Regions from separate parts of the Homo sapiens genome. Here regions 1 and 2 are each linked to region 3. Evidence: fine-mapped expression QTL. A gene starts in region 3. Each other region holds a variant in brackets. All regions are shown on one strand. Distances are between the middles of the regions.

Region 1 (6,221 bases), 91 kb after region 3:
CTTCCTTGCTGTGACTTCACAAGGGATTGTGGGTGTCTCAGGACACTGTGTCTCAGTTAATGGCTTTATGCCATGTGGGCATTCTACCTTTTTGAAGACACTGGAAACTTGGACCGAAACCAACTCCAAATTCTTCATTCTGGGTGAGATGAGCCCCAGCTAGAGATGCAGCTCAGTTTCCTCATTTGCAAAATAGAATGGTGTGGGGAAGTTATTTTGTGTCCTTGAATAAGGAAACATGGTTCATATCATTTCCTCAGAGAGTGGCTGGTCTGGATTTCAACTCAGAAGAGGTCTGTGGGAAATCACATGGGGCTGCTGCAATTTCTATTTTGGGCAGAGACCTTATCTCTGAGATATCCGAGCTGGGATTTCTTTAGTGATACCTTACCAACTTCTCACAAATACTTCACTCGGAACCCTAAACCTGGGGAGCACCACGGAGTCTTTGACCCCAACTGCTTCACTCTCCATCAGTATTTGCATAATGTCAACACAGTTCTCACCATTTGTGACCACCTTTTGACCAGGCAATTCTACCTGCCTCATGTCCCTAGCCAAAAGGCTAGTCCCCTTTGTCATCTATTCTTTTTCAGTTCCTTGCCCATGTACTGCACTCTCACTCTCTCATTATGTTTTCATGTTTAATCTCTGCTCCTCAACTGGATTCTGTTTGCCAGATTTAAAGTGTACACAAGGCTCCCACTGGCGGGTGGGGTGGGGGAGTGGAGATAACTCTACCCCAAGCATACCTTCCCCTCAAGCTTTCATATTCTCTTCTCCCCTTTACAGAGACTTCTAGAGAGAACATCTATACTTGTTGACTCTTTTTACTTCCTGCTCACTCCTTAGGTCACTGCCAGGCTGGCTCCTACCTCATGAGCTCGACAAACAGCTTGTGCCAGGGTCACTCACCTTCCTTCACATCTCAGCAGTGGTCAACACTGTTGACTGTCCCTCCTCCTCGAAACACTGTATTTTTTTGTCTTCAGTGACGCAAGGCTCTTTTGTTTACCTTCATCTTCTCTGACTGCTCATTTTCTATCTCTTTTGCAGTCTTATCCTATGCTCCCCGGGTCAATACATATTAAAATACTCAAGGCCCAGTCCTAGATAGTCTTGTCTTTTTTTGTTTGTTTGTTTTGATATGGAGTCTGGCTCTGTCACCCAGGCTGGAGTGCAGGCTCACTGCAATCTCTGCCTCCTGGGTTCAAGCGATTCTCCTGCCTCATCCTCCTGAGTAGCTGGGATTACAGGTGCATGCCACCACGCCTGGCTAATTTTTATATTTTTAGTAGAGATGGGGTTTCACCATGTTGGCTAGGCTGTTCTCAAACTCCTGACCTCAAGTGATCTGCCCACCTCAGCCTCCCAAAGTGCTGGGATTATAGGTGTGAGCCACTGCACTTGGCCGTCTTCTTTTCTTATTCTATACTTCGTTCATGGCAAAAATGTTTCTCCAGCCCAGGTCTCTTCTTTGAGCTTTAGATCCATGTATCCAATTTCCTACCTAATACTTTCATCTGGAAGTTTCACATGCATCTAAAACACAACATAGCCAAAACCAAACTCTTGATTAATCCAAAACCTTTTGCTGTTCCCTATGTCACCCGCATTGTTAAGCAGGCCAGAACTTGGAGTCACCATGACCTTTCCCTCTGCCTTACCCTTCACATTCAATTTTGCTTCCTAAACCTCTTTGAATCTGTACTTTTTTCCCTACTTCCACTCCCACTATCCTAGTCTAAGCTACCTTCACCTCTTCCTGGATAACCTTAAAAGCCTCTTTATTGGTCTATCTGCCACTGTTTTGACCTCCACCTCCCACAATGTATGCTGAGTGAGTTCTTCATCTGATTTTCATGTCTTCCCTGAGATGTTTAAAATGTTTGCATGCCCTCCCATGATTTTAGGATGCAACATTCCTTAACATGACCATAGGCCCTGTACCTAGCCAGCTTTAGATCAAACCATGCTCTGCTTTGCTCTCTTTACTCCAACCACTGTGGCCTTCTTTCACTTCTTTTTTTTTTTTTTTTGAGATGGAGTCTCGCTCTGTCACCCAGGCTGGAGTGCAGTGGTGCGATCTCTGCTCACTGCAAGCTCCGCCTCCCGGGTTCACGCCATTCTCCCGCCTCAGCCTCTGCAGTAACTGGGACTACAGGCGCCTGCCACCACGCCCAGCTAATTTTTTGTATTTTTAGTAGAGACAGGGTTTCACTGTGTTAACCAGGATGGTCTCAATCTCCTGACCTTGTGATCCACCTGCCTCAGCCTCCCAAAGTGCTGGGATTACAGGCGTGAGCCACCGCGCTCGGCCTCTTTCAGTTCTTTTTACCTGCCACGCTTCCTCTCACCAACTGCTCTTTGTCCAGAATGCACTTACTTCTGTAAGTTTCACCCTTTCTTCAAATCTCAGCTCAGTTATGGCTTCCTCAGGGCTGTCTTTCTTGACCTCTCTGACCAGGGCAACTCTCTACCATATGGCCCTGGGTACTTCTCCTTCAGGTGCTGATCACAACTGTCATTTTATGTTTCTTGGTGTCATTTTTTGGTTGAAATATATTTCCCACTGAATATGACTCCATTAGGGCAGGAACTGTGCCTGGTTTCCG[G/A]GGCTTAGAACCAGTACAGTGCCTAGTGCATAGTAAGTGCTCAGTAAATGCATTTGTTGAATGAATGAACAAATAAATACATCAATAAGTACAGACGTTTGTTTTCTGTATTCCTTTGGCTCCTTCTTCTTCTTCTTCACCCTACCCTTTGTCCAGGCCTTGGGACTTCAAATCATGGATTTTTTTTTTTTTCTTGAGTCAGAGTCTTTCTCTATCGCCCAGGCTGGAGTGCAGTGGTGCGATCTCAGCTCACTGCGACCTCCGCCTCCCAGGTTCAAGCGATTCTCCTGCCTCAGCCTCCCGAGTAGCTGGGACTACAGGCACCCGCCACCATGCCCGGCTAATTTTTTGTATTTTTAGTAGAGATGGGGTTTCACCATGTTAGCCAGGATGGTCTTGATCTCCTGACCTCGTAATCTGCCCGCCTTAGCCTCCCAAAGTGCTGGGATTACAGGCGTGAGCCACCGCACCTGGCCAAATCATGGATTTGGTTTATATGTCCAGTGCCACCACTGGGCCTGCTTCCTATTCTGGGTAATGAAATGTATGAGATGCTGAGTAGCTTTTGGACACTTCCTTTGTAATATATTTTGCTCTCCTGCAATAATTTTGTTATTATCAGGGTTCTATTCAGGAGTACAGGCTTAGGTAATAAGACAGTGCCACCTGAGGAAGGGTGCTCCTTGACTTAGAACAATAAGATAATGAAATTGGAGGTAACTTTTGGTAATCATTTAGTCTAGTTTCTCAAGCAAGGCAGAGATTCTTTATGTACCACTTCTGACAGATGATAATAATGTTTATTGAGCATAGTCCAGTTATTGTCTTAAGGATATTGATACAGATGAATCCTTTTAATCCTTAGCGACCATATGGACAAATACAGTTACTATCATGCCCTTTTTATAGCTGACGAAATAGTGGAATGCCTCATCTAAGACCATGCCTCGTCTAAGTCAGTAGCATAGCCAAGGTGCAAGCCCAGGCAGTTTGGCAGAGCCAGAGATTTTCACTGCTATGCTATGCTATGCTGTGCTGTGCTGTGCTGTGCTGTGCTGTGCTGTGCTGTGCTGTGCTGTGCTGTGCTATGCTATGCTATGCTATGCTATGCTATGCTATGCTATGATATGCCACTTCTGTAGTTAGCCAACGGTTATGTAAACACTTCCAGGGATGGGAACCCACTCGATGGTGAGCTGAGTACTTAGGCTAAAATTGTCTCCTATAACTTCAAGCCGTTTTCCCTAGTTTCAGCCTCTAAAACTATATGAAATAGCCTGCTCCAATGTCCATAGGACAGTTATTAAAATAGGACAGTTATTAAAATACTTTCAAATTCTAAGAGTAGTTTTTCTGTTCATAAAAATAACATATGTGAAAATTTGGAAAATCCAGAAAAGTATAAAGAAGATAAGAACCCTTGATAAACTGGGAGAAAATAAGTATTAACTGCCAAGAGTCTATTAGCTTTTTGTTATAATTTTTAACATTCATATTTCATTAATGGCCCATATAAAATCTGTGGCCTACCAAAACACCTAGTTCTCTGTCAGATGACCTTCCATCAAGCCAGATTTTGTCTCTATATAAAATTCTCTCTCTCTGTCTTTTTGTTTGAGACAGAGTCTTACAGGCTGAGTGGTCTTTAAATCATGGATTTGGTTTATACATCCTGATACAAAGACAGAGTCTTATAGACAGGGTCTTACAGTCTTACAGGCTGGAGTGCAGTGGTGCAATCTTGGCTCACTGCAACCTTCATCCCCCAGGTTCATGCAATTCTCCTGCCTCCTGAGTAACTGGGACTACAGGCGTGCACCACTATGCCTGGCTAATTTTTGTATTTTTAATAGAGATGGGGTTTTGCAATGTTGGCCAGGCTGGTCTCGAACTCTTTGCCTCAAGTGATCTGCCTTCCTCGGCCTCCCAAAGTGCTGGATTTACAGGTGTGCACCACTGTGACCAACCATAAAATTCTTAATGTAAAATTTTACACTTATCCCTTTTAAATTATATTTATTTGTTTGTTTTGATTCTTCTGTCTTACTGAAAACTTTTCTAATCCAGATTCTGCTTTCTAATGTTAGCCTTCCAGCTTCCAAGATACTATGTGATCTTGATAACAGGGCTTTTCAAACCTTTCCCCCAGGCATTGCTAAAATGCTAAGCCCTGTGACACATACTAGGAACCTCCCTGTAGGTTCACATGGGTCTATTCGTCAGCCATTAATTTGGCCACTGAAGAAAATACAAATCTGTATAACTGCATTTTCACTGAGCACATATATATTTTTTTCACCTTTTCTATGATGATTTCATGACTTAATGAAATATGTCACCAAAATTGGGTATGTTTCATCTATGGAATTTCTCAACTTTACTGGTATAGTAAGTCTTTTTAAAAATAGGATATCGTTTTCTTAGTTAGCTTACACTAACTCTGAATAATCACTTCTTAATTTCTAAGTGTTCACAAATCATTATCTAAATATTAATACTTCATTCTAGAACTTTCCTGGAAATCATACCAATCTGTTACTTCAACTCTTCACTGCAGTTGAAATAGCTATGTGCAGACATACTGGCCCTGACTCACATTTAATGGGGCTGAAGAAATGATCCCGTGGGTATTCTTTCTCCTTCAGGAGATCAGCTTCCTGTCAACATACAGGAAACTGAAAAGCTGCAGTCTAATAATATAGCCACTGACAGGAAGATTGTTGTTTAGATTGCCTTTCCAGATTTCTCAATTGAATAATGCTGGTGAAGGATGACTGCTTATTTTATTTATGACTTTGGATCAACTACAAGGATATCTGACTTTACATAGTAGATGTGCTGCTTCAATGATGCATATAAACCACTTTTTTTGTAAGTCAAATTCCACCTAAAATGTACTAATCTGGGAGTTTACTTTTAAGGCCATCTTGTGGTGAGACATTTTATAAAGTGAAGAATTCTTTACTGATTTATCTGTTTGCTTGGATTTTAAAGATCAGGGTTGCTTAAAGCAAGGTGAAATTATACTATTTCTTTATTTTTAGAAAAAGTAGGCTAGCATTATCTTTTGTGAATGTCACCTTGAGCAAACAGGACTGGGAAGATCTTGGCCAGGCAGCCTGCAAATGAGTAAAAACCAGAGCCTCCACGCTAAGCCACATTCTCACCTCGCAATTCTCTGATGCACTCCTGCCGATGAAGGACTGCTTCCGTGATTGATATTTTTTCATTTTTCAATATCCTCAATCAATAGCTGAAAAAGAATTCTATTTACTCATCTTCTCTGAGAGTCCTCCTCTCACTCAGCTGTCAGAGGCAGGGCAGGTGGCTCCCTGGTGAGGCTTCAGTTATACTTTATGTGTTCTTCCCTTCCTTGGATTGGAGCTGTGTGAAGGCCAGAACCTCAGCTTGTTCACCTCTGTATCTCCATTAAACTAGCCCGAGCCTTCTGTGAAATGGGTTCTCACTACACATTCATAGACTCAATGCTGACTCCCAAACTTGAGCTGGAACCAACTGCAGGTGATATGATGGGCTCACTCCATCTCCACCAAGGGGACTGCAACAGTGTGGAGTGTGTGTGTCTTAGTCTGTTGGTGCTGCTAT
Region 2 (6,221 bases), 100 kb after region 3:
ATGCAAAATACAGATGCACTTGCTATGGCAAAGAGGAGCCGAATGACAGGATCATGTCAGTTAACCAAGGAGGGCTTCCTGCGAGAGGCATTGTTCTAAACACAGTTTTGAAGGTAATCTGAGAGAAGGGACCTGCCTAGGGAAAAAGAAGGAGGGCAATCCCTCTGGGATTATCTGTTCAACAAACTCTGCTTTTTCTCTTAATGATTCTGTTTCATCTGTCACACATATTTTTGCTGTGGTCTAAATAATTCAGACCACTCTGTCTGCGTAGATGTGATCTCTCAAGAATCCTTGTTTGGCTGTGCAGGTGTTTATAGTTTCACTAAAAAGTGTCTCATTTTTTTAAACATAGAGTGTGAATGTATAATGTGCAGATTTAATTCTGGGTAAAAATGCCAAGATGTGGACTACGCTGCCTCCTTCTAGTAATTACTCATTTCTGACAAAAAAGTAGGAGGCTTAATTTACCTCTAGGGCAATTTAAAAACACTATTGCCAGTTAATTCACTCCCAACCCCGTTTCCCAGACAGGTTTGTTTTTCCTTTCTTCTCTCAATCCTTGTTTTAAAAGTTGTATGTCTTTTCTGATTCATGGCTGTGTAGGCATTTAGTCAAAGTTAGTCTGGATAAAGTTAACACTTTCCTCTAAAGACAAATATGTTTTGTCTTTCTGGGAATATGATACTTAGAGAAGAGCTGTAGATTACATTCTATAAATGTGGACAAATTACATATGCATTCTATGCATGTCTCTATCAGTACCTTCCCCACGGGTAAGCGAAAAACTTTCTGTATCTATTAAAGCAGGAATTTAGATCCCATTCATGGGATTATAAATCGTTAATCTTCATGGATCCGATGGACAAAATGGTGGGTGGGGGAACCTCTTGTTGCTTCATAGAACCGGATGGCTCCACATCATTTTACTAAGAGGACTTAAAAGTTAGTTTCAAACAGCTGTCAGAATGATTCCCCCCTTTCTTAAGGCACTCATTAGAAAATAAAACCAGATATAATTAACAAACAAACAAACCTATCTGCCTGCTGTTCTAACTTGTTATAATAAGTGTTATTTCTACTTACAAACACTATCCTGTCAGCATCATGCTGTTTCTTTAATAAGACTTCTGCACTGGGGGGAAAAAAGGTTTGCATTAAACTTAAGTCTTGACTTGTCTCTATTCTATTCTTGCTCATCTGCATTCAGATCCAATTTGCTTCGAGGTTGAAAGGAACTAAAGTGTCTAAACCATCTCCAAGAGAGAGAGGAGGGACCTTTCTGCTCTTACAGTTGGATGAAGGATGGGGCTGCCCTGAGGCTTGCACAGACACCCTTATTTCCTTGCTGTTGGGCCTAGATGACCCCTGTAGCCAGCAGAGTAGGCAAAAACCCCTTCTGCTTCCTGGCGTTAATTTTCCAGGTGAATGACGATGTTTTCATATGCTTGATAAGTTCCAGAGGCTCATGTGAGTGGACAGATCTAGAGAGGACTTCGGCTCCAGAGCTCATCTGTGGTTTGGTAAGAGTGGCAAACTGAATGACAATAATTGGAGAGTTGCTGAGGTGGCAAATACAGCAGCAAAGATAATGCTATGTGATCGAAATGTTAGGGGCTTATGGTTTTTCTTCTTTGGATTCTTAAAATTAGTTTTTTTAATTCTGGAAAACTTCAAACATATACAAAACAAGACAAAATAAAAATAATGAACTCTCCCCAGATGCGGTGCCTCACGCCTGTAATCCCAGCACTTTGGGAGGCTGAGGCAGGTGGATCACCTGAGGTCAGGAGTTCAAGACCAGCCTGGCCAACATGATGAAACCCGATCTGTACTAAAAATACAAATATTGGCCTGGCATGGTGGTGCATGCCTGTAATCCCAGCTTACTCAGGAGGCTGAGGCATGAGAATCGCTTGAACCCGGGAGGCAAAGGTAGCAGTGAGCCAAGATCGCGCCACTGCACTCCAGCCTGGGCGATAGAGCGAGACTCCATCTCAAAAACAAAACACAACCAAACTATCATGCCATCACTCATTTTCCGTAATTATTTTCTGACATCTTGTTAACCTATATCCCTACTAATTTCTCCCTCCTGTATTATTTTTGAAGCAAATTCAAGACATCATATCATTTAATCTGTAAATATTTTAGTTTGTTTTTCTAAAAATTAAACACTTCTTTTTAAAAATGTAACAATATCACAAATACGCTTAAAAGTAGTTAATAATTAATTTCTTAATATAATCAAATATACTGTATTTAAATTTTCAGTTGTCTCATAAACAAATTTTTAAAATAGTTTCATCATGATTCAAGTAAAGTCCTACAATATGACTATTTGATATGTTTATTAAGTCTTTCTTTGCCCCTTTTCAAAATAAACTGTTTATTTTGGAATAATCATAGATTTACAGAAAAGTTGCAGACACAGTACAGAGAGTTCCTGTGTACTTTTCACCCAGTCCCCCTTATATTAGCATCTTACATAATTACTGCATACTTGTCAAAACTGAGGTAATCATTGGTACATTACTATTAACTAACCTATAGGCTTTATTCAGATTTCACTAGTTTTTCCCTTGATGCCACTTTTTTTCCAATTCAGGAGACCACAATACATTTATTAATAGTCATTATGATTCCTTAGACTCCTCTGATTTGTGCATTAGTCAGTCTTGTTTTTCATGAGCTTGACAATTTTGAAGAGTTCTGGTCAGATATTTTGTAGAAAGTCTCTCAATTTGGATTTGTCTGATGTTCTCTTATGATTAGACTAAGGTTATGGGTTTTGGGGAAGAATACCACTGATTCTTCGCATAGAATAAAGTTTCCTTCTCATGGCCTTGTATCTGGGGGTACAGAGTACATATCAACATGACTTTAAGTCTCTTTAATCCACCTCTCTATCTCTATCTCTTTCTCTTTCTTTTTTCCTAGTGCAAGTTACTTTCTGAGTCACTCGGGGTTTTTTGGTTGATAAAAGAAAAACTTAGCTGGGCACAGTGGCTCTTGCCTGTAATCCTAGCACACTGGGAGGCCAAGGCAGGTGGATCCCTTAAGCCAGGAGTTTGAGACCAGCCTGGGCAACATGGCAAAACCCCATCGCTACTAAAAATACAAAAATTAACTGTGTGTGATGGCACATGCCAGTAATCCCAGCTACTCGGGACGCTGAGGCAGGAGAATTGCTTGAACCTGGGAGGCAGAGGTTGCAGTGAGCTGTAATCGCGCCACTGCACTCCAGCCTGGGCGACAGTGAGACTTCGTCTCAAAAAAAAAAAAAAAAAAAACCAAGAAAAACTTCAACCAAGTTAAATTTAAAGGAGTTTAATTGAGCAATGAACAATTCGCGAATCGGGCAGCCTCCTGAGCCA[G/C]GGTAGGCTCAGGGGCGCAGCGCAGCCACGTGGTGGAACAAGATTTATGAACAGAAAAAGGAAAGTGATGTACAGAAAATGGAAGTGAGGTATGGAAACAGCTGCATTGGTTACAGCTCGGCATTTGCCTTATTTGTACATGGTTGAACTGTTAGCTACATTGGATTGGCCAAAACTTGGTGACTGGCACAAGTGTAGGCTATGGTCTGGTTACACCTCCACTTGTTATAGTTCACAATGTACAGAAAAACCTTTAGGCTGAACTTAAAATATGTAAGCAGAGAGCTTTAGGCTGAACTTGATTTAACATGGTTTTATTTTGTTTTTAACAAATAGAGGCCATGATGACTGTTTAGGCTGAGTAATGGAGGCCTCTGCTCCAAGGGCAGGCTGCTTTTCAAACAGTTGCCATCTCAGTAATTTTTATCCATTTGCATCTCACAACATCACAAGACAGGTTTACATAAAAGTCCAGGTTACCCTGCAGGCTGCGTGGTAACCTTTGATTTTAGGTTGATACTGGAGAGAAGGTCCGAGAAGAAGCCATCCTTAACAGGAAATACATTAAAAAAATTCTTTGAAACTGGTTCCTGTGTCATTGAAAGGCTTGGGTAAGAACACACACATGGCTGGGCATGGTGGCCCATGCCTGTAATCCCAGCACTTTGGGAGGCCGAGGTCAGCAGATCACCTGAGGTCAGGAGTTCGAGGTCAGCCTGACCAACATGGCAAAACCCCGTCTCTACTAAAAATTCAAAAATTAGCCACACCTGGTGGTGGGCACCTATAATCCCAGCTACTCGGGAGGCTGAGGCAGGAGAATCACTGGAACCTGGGAGGTGGAGGCTGCAGTGAGCCGAGATTGTGCCATTGCATTCCAGTCTAGGCAACAGAGCAAGACTCTGTCTCAAAAAATAAAAAATAAATAAAAAGGACATATATCCATATCCCCTGTAGAGGTATGTATTATTGATATTAGAAAGAGAATACACTGTCTTAGTCCATTTTTGTGTTAGCTGTGACTGGGTAATTTGTTAAAAAAAAAAAAAAGAGGTTTATTTGGCTCATGATTCTGGTGGCCAAAAAGTCCAAGGTGGGGCAGCTGCATCTGGTGAGGTTCTCATGCTGCTTTGACTCATAGCAGACAATGAAAGGGGAGCAGGCATGTGCAAAGAGATCACATGGCAAGAGAGGAAGCAAGAGGGGAAAACTGAAGAAGCCAGACTCTTTTTTAACAGCCTGTCCTGGAGGAAACTAATCCATTCACACAAGAATGAGAACTCATTCACCCCTGTGGAAGGGCATTAATCTATTCATAAGGGATCCACCCCCCATGACCCACGACTCCCTCTAGGTTCCACCTCACAACATTGCCACATTGGGGATCAAACTTCACCATGAGTTTCAGCAGGGACAAAGCACATCCAAACCATAACATACACCAAGACTTCAGGAAATTCTTATAAATGGACACTGGGGATGATTAAAATCTTCTGACATTGGCTCTGACTAACCAGAGTCCTCAAGTTTTCACATGGCAGGATAATAGCACAAGCAAAGGAAGAAAAAAAAAAAACACAATTGTCTCCCTCATGACCACAGTGCTTTACTTTTTCCCGTGTGTCTTTGCCTGTATTACCTAATGTCATTGTTGAAGTACTTGCCTTAGTAGGAAGTATCACCTTTGCTCTGATAAGGAAACTGAGAAGGCTGAGAGAGGTCCTATAGCTTTGTCAGATGGCCAGTTATGGCTGGAACTGGGGTTAGGATACAGGTGTCCTTCCTTTGCATGCTGTTGTCAGGTAAGATTCAGGCAGATGCCATCCAGGATCAACCTTTGAAGGCTTTTTGATATCAAAATATCAAACATCTCAGGATGAATGATTAAAATTAGAATTTAATGGTATAGCCCCAAGCTTCTCATAGTGGACAGCTCAAATGTTGATTTGGAAGACTTGTGCTCTAAATCTGGCTTAGTGTTGCTATACCAATAGATACCTTCAATAGCAATCCTCTTTTGTTTTGACTACTGGGGTTCAGGCAGCAGCTCTGATCCTCTCAGCACATGGTCTTGGTCAGGAGGATGAATAACTGGCCATGTCTTATTACAATTTGTTCCTGGAGGTGCTCCTTGGCTTCCAGCCTCCCCAGAGCAGGGTCACACTTGGAGCCCACATAGCCCAGCATTCTGGAGCAGAATGGTACTTCTGAATCCAGCCCTTGGTAGCTCTCATCATAAATGTGGAAGCACATTTGTAATTGCAAAATATGCAAGGCAAGGGGATGGAGAGAGAAAAAAGAGTGATTCACCAAGGCTCTCCTGCAAGAAAAATCCAGCATTGAAACATACCTTGACATCTCAGATACAATGTCTACTTCTGGTAATGAAGATGCTGACACCAGAGTGCTACTGTGATGGGGTCCTCTTATTAACAGAGCCATGATTGTAATATGGGTGAAAAGCTCAGGCTAATGAGGGTGACTTTGAATATACCCTTGGTTTTACAAGAAGGATCTATTGCTCTTTCCCCTTGCTTGGTCCATGGGCAGGCAGCGGAGTTTAATGATGCTTCACACACAGTGTGCCTCCACCGTGGTAAGGCATTTCAAGGAAACTCTAGTTGGGCTTTTGCATTGTTGGACCATTAATATTTTTAATGGTGACAATAAAAGCTGGAAGAACTCAAATCTCAGCAAGGGTTTTCAAGAGGCAGTATAATAATGAGGCAAGCTGAGCCCTGGGTGGTAGGGCCTCCAGGTTCTTGCTCTGCCCCTGGCTGGCTCTATATCCTTGATCTTGCCACTTAACCCTGCTTTCTGAGTTCCAGAGGAATGTGCAGGTGA
Region 3 (6,221 bases):
CAAGAGTTTGGCAGGCAGGGGTACATGATGTCAAGAACCACATGAAGTTTCTCTGCTTTGGTCACTGGTATTGGAAGAGTCTGGCAGGCAGGGACCAAGCATCTATTATCTGATATCCACTTGGCAGACTACATAAACAGTGAGACCTTGTGGCACAGCAGGAATTAGGTATTCCAACTACTACTTAAAGATCTACACTGACTCAGAGTGTGGCTACAACTCAAATGCTAAACTAAATGTGTGCCTCAGTTTCTCCACTGGAAATGTAATACATTATCTGCCCATCTCCTATCTTTAGAGAGGCAGCACTGCCAATTGGTTAAGAATACAGTCCCTAATTGGTTCAAATTTTGGCTTTGCCACCTACCAACTTTGGCAAGTTAATCTCCTTGTGCCTCAGTTTATTCAACTGCAAAATGGAGTTAACAATAGCACCTATCTCACAGGGTTGCTGTTAGGATTAATTAGAAAAATCTTATAGTGCCTGGCAAGTAACAAGCATTCCATAAACATCAGCTAGTATTATCATTATTTTAAACGAATGACAAGATTAACCAACTTAGTATACCTCTATTACACTTAGGAAATTACAGGCCCTAATTTTTTTTTGCTTTTTAATCATGTGGCTTAACTACTAACTGTTCTTTTTAATATAGCAAGTACACAGCCAATTAGTCCTGTAAAAAAATTCACTGTATACCCTGCCACCTAAAACGTATACATTCATCGAGTTTTAGTTAACTTTTCATCGCAATATAAGCGAACTCCCCCAACCAGTCATAAGTGACTTGCATCCATCCACTTCTACTTTCACAGTCATCACCATATTCCTTAACACCATTATTCTTACCTAGACTATCACAGTGGCCTCCCAACTGCTCCATTCCACTCTTCATGCTGTAGTAGGGAGCTCTTTTAAAAACCTAAATCTAATGTCACTCCTCTGCTTAAAAGCCTGCAATAGTTCCCCATTGTCCTAAACAAGTCCGATCTCCTAATGAGAACTAAGAGGCCTGCAAGATCTAGGGCCACCCTCCCGCTCTGGCTGCTCAGGCTATACAGGCCTTCTTTCACATCGGGCCTCAGAGCCTTCACATATCATGCTCCCCTATCTGGCGTAATCCCCTCTCCCCAGTACCCTAAGCAACGCCTAATCATCTCTGAGATCTCAGCTGAAAGGCGATGAGCGTCTGATACCCTAAACAGGATCAGGTCCTCCTATTACATGCTCTCATAACCCTGATCCTAATACTCTTTTCTGCATCACAAAATTAAACGGCAATAATTATTTAAATGGCTATTTAATACTGTCCTTGTCCAAAAAAATAGAAACACTTAGGAAGATTTGGAACCAAGTCTATCGTTTACTGCTACAACCCAAAGTGCTTACTTGCCAAGTATCTCATACATTGTAGGTGGGCTCAATATATCTATATTGCATAGTAGGAAAAGTGATGAGATCCACGATGGTGAAAAGTAGATCATCCAGAAAATCAGACTAAAGCAGAACACTGGCTGCACTGTATTAAATATGTAAGTTACCACAGGCATTACACTGAAGAGTAAAAACCTGCTTAAACATGGGCAAAATAAAGTTAAGACTGAACTTTCCAATGCAAAATTAAGTTTCTTTGTGCATCCTCAGGTGTTATGTGAAACTGGAGGAGTTCAACTTCAGTTACCAGTAAGAAGATACACAACTAAATCAAGACTGCTGCCACATTTGGCAACAACCTCCTCTCTTCTTGGCAGTAACTGTGAGGCCAAGAGTTGAGTTGGCCAGGGAAGAGTGATTTATCTTCCCACATTTAGAAGTGGTCCCTCTACAACAGGAATGCTGTACCGCTACTGGACTTTGAATTCTAACCTTGTCAAACCAGTACCTTCCCTAAGTATTCAAGTCACTTTTTAAAAAACAAGTTTAAATGGCATCGCAGTCCAATTCGACTTAGAGAAAACAAAGTTGCTCTTTCCAAAAAAAAAAAAAAGTCATTACTCTGGAAAATTAAAAGAAACTGACAGGGGGATGAATAAGGCGCTAAAGGCTGAGAGCTGTCGATGGAAGATGGAGGTCGCTCAGCATAGTATAATAACTACCACCGAGGCCTGGTGGGCAGCAGCTCCCAACCTAGAGCGGACGACCCCAGGTTGGCGTGAAGCAGGCAGGTTTGACAACACCAGACCCCTGCTGTCCGGTTCGTCGCGCTGACCCTGCCAACGCAACAAACGCCCAGACCTTCTCTGCACTATGGATGAGCAGTGTGGCCTGCTCTCGTTCTGCCCTTCCCTGGAAATGCGCGCAAGAAGGGAGGTGGCAAAAATCATGTCCACCGGGGGGGCTCAGGTAAGGGCTGGGGAGGTCTCGGGGTTAAACATTCGGCCCTTTGTTCACCAAGGCAGCAGAGCCCTTGGCGTCCGCAGCTCCTCCTCCCCGACTGCTCCCTGGCGCCAGCGTCTCCCGAGGACAGGCGGCAAGGGCTCGGACGCCCAGGCTTGGCTGCGGGTCGGGATCCCACGGCCTCGGCGGCGCGCGGCCCCTGCCTTTACCTTGTAGACGTCGCCGTAGGTGCCGCTGCCGATGCGCTGAATCAGCTCGAAGTCCTCCTGCGGGTTCCGGCGGGACAAATCGAAGCCGGGGTTCATGGCGGGCCCCAGGTGCCCCCCGCCTCCCTCCCGGGCAGGGGAGGGGGGCCGCTCAGGGGGCCACACGGAGAGAGGGCGCCGCGGCCGGCTCCCGGCTCCCCCGGCGGTCACAATCACCCGGCTCCACGCTGCGGCCGCCGCCGCCGCCGCCGCTCCCCTCACGCCGCTGCGGACGACGACAAGCGGCCAATCGTCCCCGCCCCCCGCGGCCCGCCGCCGCGCCGAACCTGGTCACACCCACAAGGAGAGGAGAACCCTCGCAGCCCCTCGCTCGGGGTGAAACTCCAACATGGCTTCCGCTTTCGCCGCTCCTCCCCCTCCCCTTACTCCGGCTCCTCCAACCTCCTCCCCTTTTCCCGACTCCCGCCCGACTGCGCAGCCGCGATCCCGGAGGGAGCGCGCCAGGCCTGGCGCGCACCCGACCCCTTGCGCGTTCCGGCTCCGCGCGCCTGCCAGGCCGGGGCCGGCGGCGGAACAGCTTGGGACCCGAAACGCCTCGGCTTTTCTGCGGACCCGCGCCCGGCCGCTGCCGCCGGACGCTTGAAAAGGTTTGCCTGGCCCAGGGACCGGGGTTAGGACTAGCAGAAAGTGGCTTCTTTTCGTTTCTGATTCCCCTAACGACAAAGTTGGACCTTGGTCTATCTGGTCCCAGTTCCAAGCAGGTAGCATAGTGGTAATATCCAAGACAGCCAATGTCCCAGCCTTTATTATTTTAGAAGCAGCTACATGTAGGATACCATGGAGTGCTGCAGCCTTTCTGGGATTGCGGGGAGGGGTCACTAAACACACCGTGAGGAAAACCCCCAGGAAAAGTGAGCTGTGCTTGCTTGCCCCTGTCACCGACACTCGGACCCTTGGAGTTGGCCTGCCAGGGTGCAAAGGAGGGCAGGCCAGGAGGGCCGCGAGGGAGGTGTGTGCAGTGGGCAGAGCGTGAAAGCTCCGGGAGGAAAACACGCGGAACAGCTGCCCACCATCCCGCGTGGGAGGCAGGCAGAGCGCAGAACTAAAGCAGTGATTGACCTCCCTCTTCGAAGAGGGTTGGATTATCAAAGACGGGCGGGGACTGCGCAGGCTGTCAAGCAACCCTGTAAAGAAGGGGTGGAGAGTGGACTAGATCTATTACCGCACCTGAAATATAAACACGTGACGATCCGGAAGCTCTTTAGCTGTGACCTTACCTACCCAAAAACCCCACCCTGCTTAAGACCCAGATTGCGCGTCTTACATCTGAGCTATGTGGACTCCAGCTCCGATTGTTAATACTTGCCCAAGAAAGCTTGAGGGTAATGGAAGGTTATTTTTCTGTTCTCATTGAACTTCCCAATAGACATTTGCAGGAGCTTTAATCAATTAGGTGATGGCCACTTTGGCAATACCACGTTGGAGTTTTGCTTCAGAAATGCTTTCCTAATCCCCTTAGGCACCACACCTTCTAACCACTAATATTCCCTAATACCTCGTGGCTCCTGAGAAACTAGGTCTCATCAAACCTGTTAAGGATAAGTATAATAAATTAATAGTAGAGCAAACTACTTAGAGTTAACTGCTTCATACTTTTTCAAAAAATCTTTTGAATCCTTTTGCTCATAGGAAAATTGCATATGTACTAAATTCTCAAATTGTTTACTTTGAGTATCTGTTGACTAAATTGATGTTTGAAAATGGTTATCTCTTCACCTATATAAGTAGCCTTTCAGTTGTGTAATTTTTAATTATTAAATTTTAAAGCATCAGTAATATGAAAGTATCACTTAAATTATTGCCTTAGGAGTGCATATCATTGAATATCTTCTCGATGGATCTACCTTCAGGCTCTGGTATCTTGAGAAACTCCTGACTATAAATGTTATTCCATAGCCAAAGGTCTTGCTTTTGCTTGTTTAAGGTACTTGCCCAGGACCCAGATTACAGGCCTTCCTTCAGTTTGTCCACATTTGGAGAATTGTTTGGCATGTTTAGGCCAAGCGCAAGAATAATTAGCCAAGGATTCAGATAAGCAGACCTGACAAATTATCCCAAATGGAAGCCAGGTCTGCTCTTTTCCTCTGCCTTTTTTTTTTTTTTTTTTTTGAGAAGGAGTTTCGCTCTAGTTGTCCAGGCTTGAGTGCAAGGGTGCAATCTCAGCTCACTGAAACCTCTGCCTCCCGGGTTCTTAGCGATTCTCCTGCCTCAGCCTCCCAAGTAGCTGGGATCACAGGCATGCAACACCACACCCAGCTAATTTTTGTATTTTTAGTAGAGATGGGATTTCTCCTTGTTGGTCAGGCTGCTCTTGAACTCCCGACCTCAGATGATCCGCCTGCCTCGGCCTCCTGAAGTGGTGGGATTACAGGCATGAGCCACTGCACCCGGCCTCTGCCTTTTTAGTGCCAGAAAGCCAAATTCTCAGGACTGAAAGCTGCACAAGAAAGTTCTAATGACTTCAGTGTTTTGTTTGCTGAGATTATCGTCTGTCCAAATAACTTTGCATTTGCATCACTAATAGACTGCTTTCAAAAGGAAAAGACATTTCAGTAGGGCTAGAACAGTCTTTAAAGTTTTGTCTGTTCCATTTTGGCAGGGCCAAGCTAGTCCTTTTGAGAAGAGATGAATTTCCATGTAAGGGCCTGATTTGCCATGTGGGTTACAACATAAGTAAAACAACTGCTCACAAAGAAAATATTTTGTTTTTTGTAATATATGCATGTGGCCAATTCCAGTGCCTTTTCCCCCTGTTCTAACAATCCTCAGTTTTGCTAGAAGTAACACTAATGATCACACTTTCCTAGAATCAGAGAAAGAGCTTCCCTCTTCTATGATTAGAAGCATTCTTAGAAGTCATCTAATCTTTTTAACTCAGGAACTGCTTCTACAGCATCTCTGCTGGATTTGCTGCTGCTTGAATACTTTCAATAAAAGGTGACTCATTGCTTCCCAAAACAACCCACCTCGTTGTGATACAGTGCTAGTAAATGATCATAATAACTAGGAGAAAAGTAGTAATTTCTAACATTGCTAAGTGCTTACAAGATACCAGGAATGGAGCCAAGTATTTTTCATGTGTTATTTCATTTAATTCGCACAACAACCTAATGACATAGGTAATATTATCTCCATTTTATGAGGCACAGACAGATTAAACTGCTCAAGGTAACACAGAAGGCTGAAATTTGAACAAAGGCAGTATGACACCAAGGCTAGATTCTTAGCCACTAGTCTATACTCTGCTTATATACAATATACTGTAAAAAATTTCTCTTATGGTAAGCCAACCTCTACCTCCCTGTAATGTATTTAGAGGCAATGATTATTAGATTCTGGTGGTATTGAATACAGAAAAGAAAAGCCACAATGCCTTCCCTCAAGGAGTTGACAGTCTCATAAATAGTGTGAGAAGCACAGAGAAGGGACATTAATGCAGACGGGAGGAAGATTTAGGAATGACCCCTTGGCTGGGCGCAGTGGCTCATGCCTGTAATCCCAACACTTTGGGAGGCCGAGGCGGGTGGATCACCTGAGGTCAGGAGTTCAAGACCAGCCTGGCCAACATGGTGAAACCCCATCTCTACTAAAAATACAAAAATTAGCTGGGCGCGGTG

Direction of the effects. Alleles are on the strand shown, and positions count from the first base shown. SD is a standard deviation of normalised expression in the study named.
In carriers of allele A in region 1, the expression in subcutaneous fat of the gene that starts at base 2,941 in region 3 tends to be higher than with G alone (moderate effect, 0.45 SD a copy in TwinsUK).
For the expression in subcutaneous fat of the gene that starts at base 2,941 in region 3, C is the high allele of the variant in region 2 and G is the other (small effect, 0.19 SD a copy in GTEx).

What was found. PIP is the estimated chance that this variant, and not a neighbour inherited with it, causes the effect.
Region 1: its variant is the best candidate, but not a certain one, in a credible set for the expression of MAP4K3 in subcutaneous fat (TwinsUK, PIP 0.63).
Region 2: its variant is the best candidate, but not a certain one, in a credible set for the expression of MAP4K3 in subcutaneous fat (GTEx, PIP 0.89).

What each region holds. Positions count from the first base shown.
Region 1 is chr2:39,525,253-39,531,473 of GRCh38, forward strand. The region is part of intron 5 of MAP4K3-DT (MAP4K3 divergent transcript); the gene reads left to right. Among named protein-coding and RNA genes, the nearest start is that of MAP4K3-DT, 91 kb to the left of the region's middle. RefSeq lists an enhancer at 2,058-2,117. The variant G/A (reference allele first, on the strand shown) is at 2,616.
Region 2 is chr2:39,534,426-39,540,646 of GRCh38, forward strand. All of the region lies in intron 5 of MAP4K3-DT (MAP4K3 divergent transcript), which reads left to right. Among named protein-coding and RNA genes, the nearest start is that of MAP4K3-DT, 100 kb to the left of the region's middle. The variant G/C (reference allele first, on the strand shown) is at 3,378.
Region 3 is chr2:39,434,345-39,440,565 of GRCh38, forward strand. MAP4K3 (mitogen-activated protein kinase kinase kinase kinase 3) reads right to left here and starts at 2,941. Exons shown (of 34, transcript NM_003618.4): 1 at 2,548-2,941. The coding sequence starts at 2,643. It overlaps MAP4K3-DT (MAP4K3 divergent transcript), which reads left to right and starts at 3,072. Exons shown (of 6, transcript NR_037875.1): 1 at 3,072-3,191. RefSeq lists an enhancer at 2,135-2,214 and silencers at 2,545-2,904, 2,975-3,194.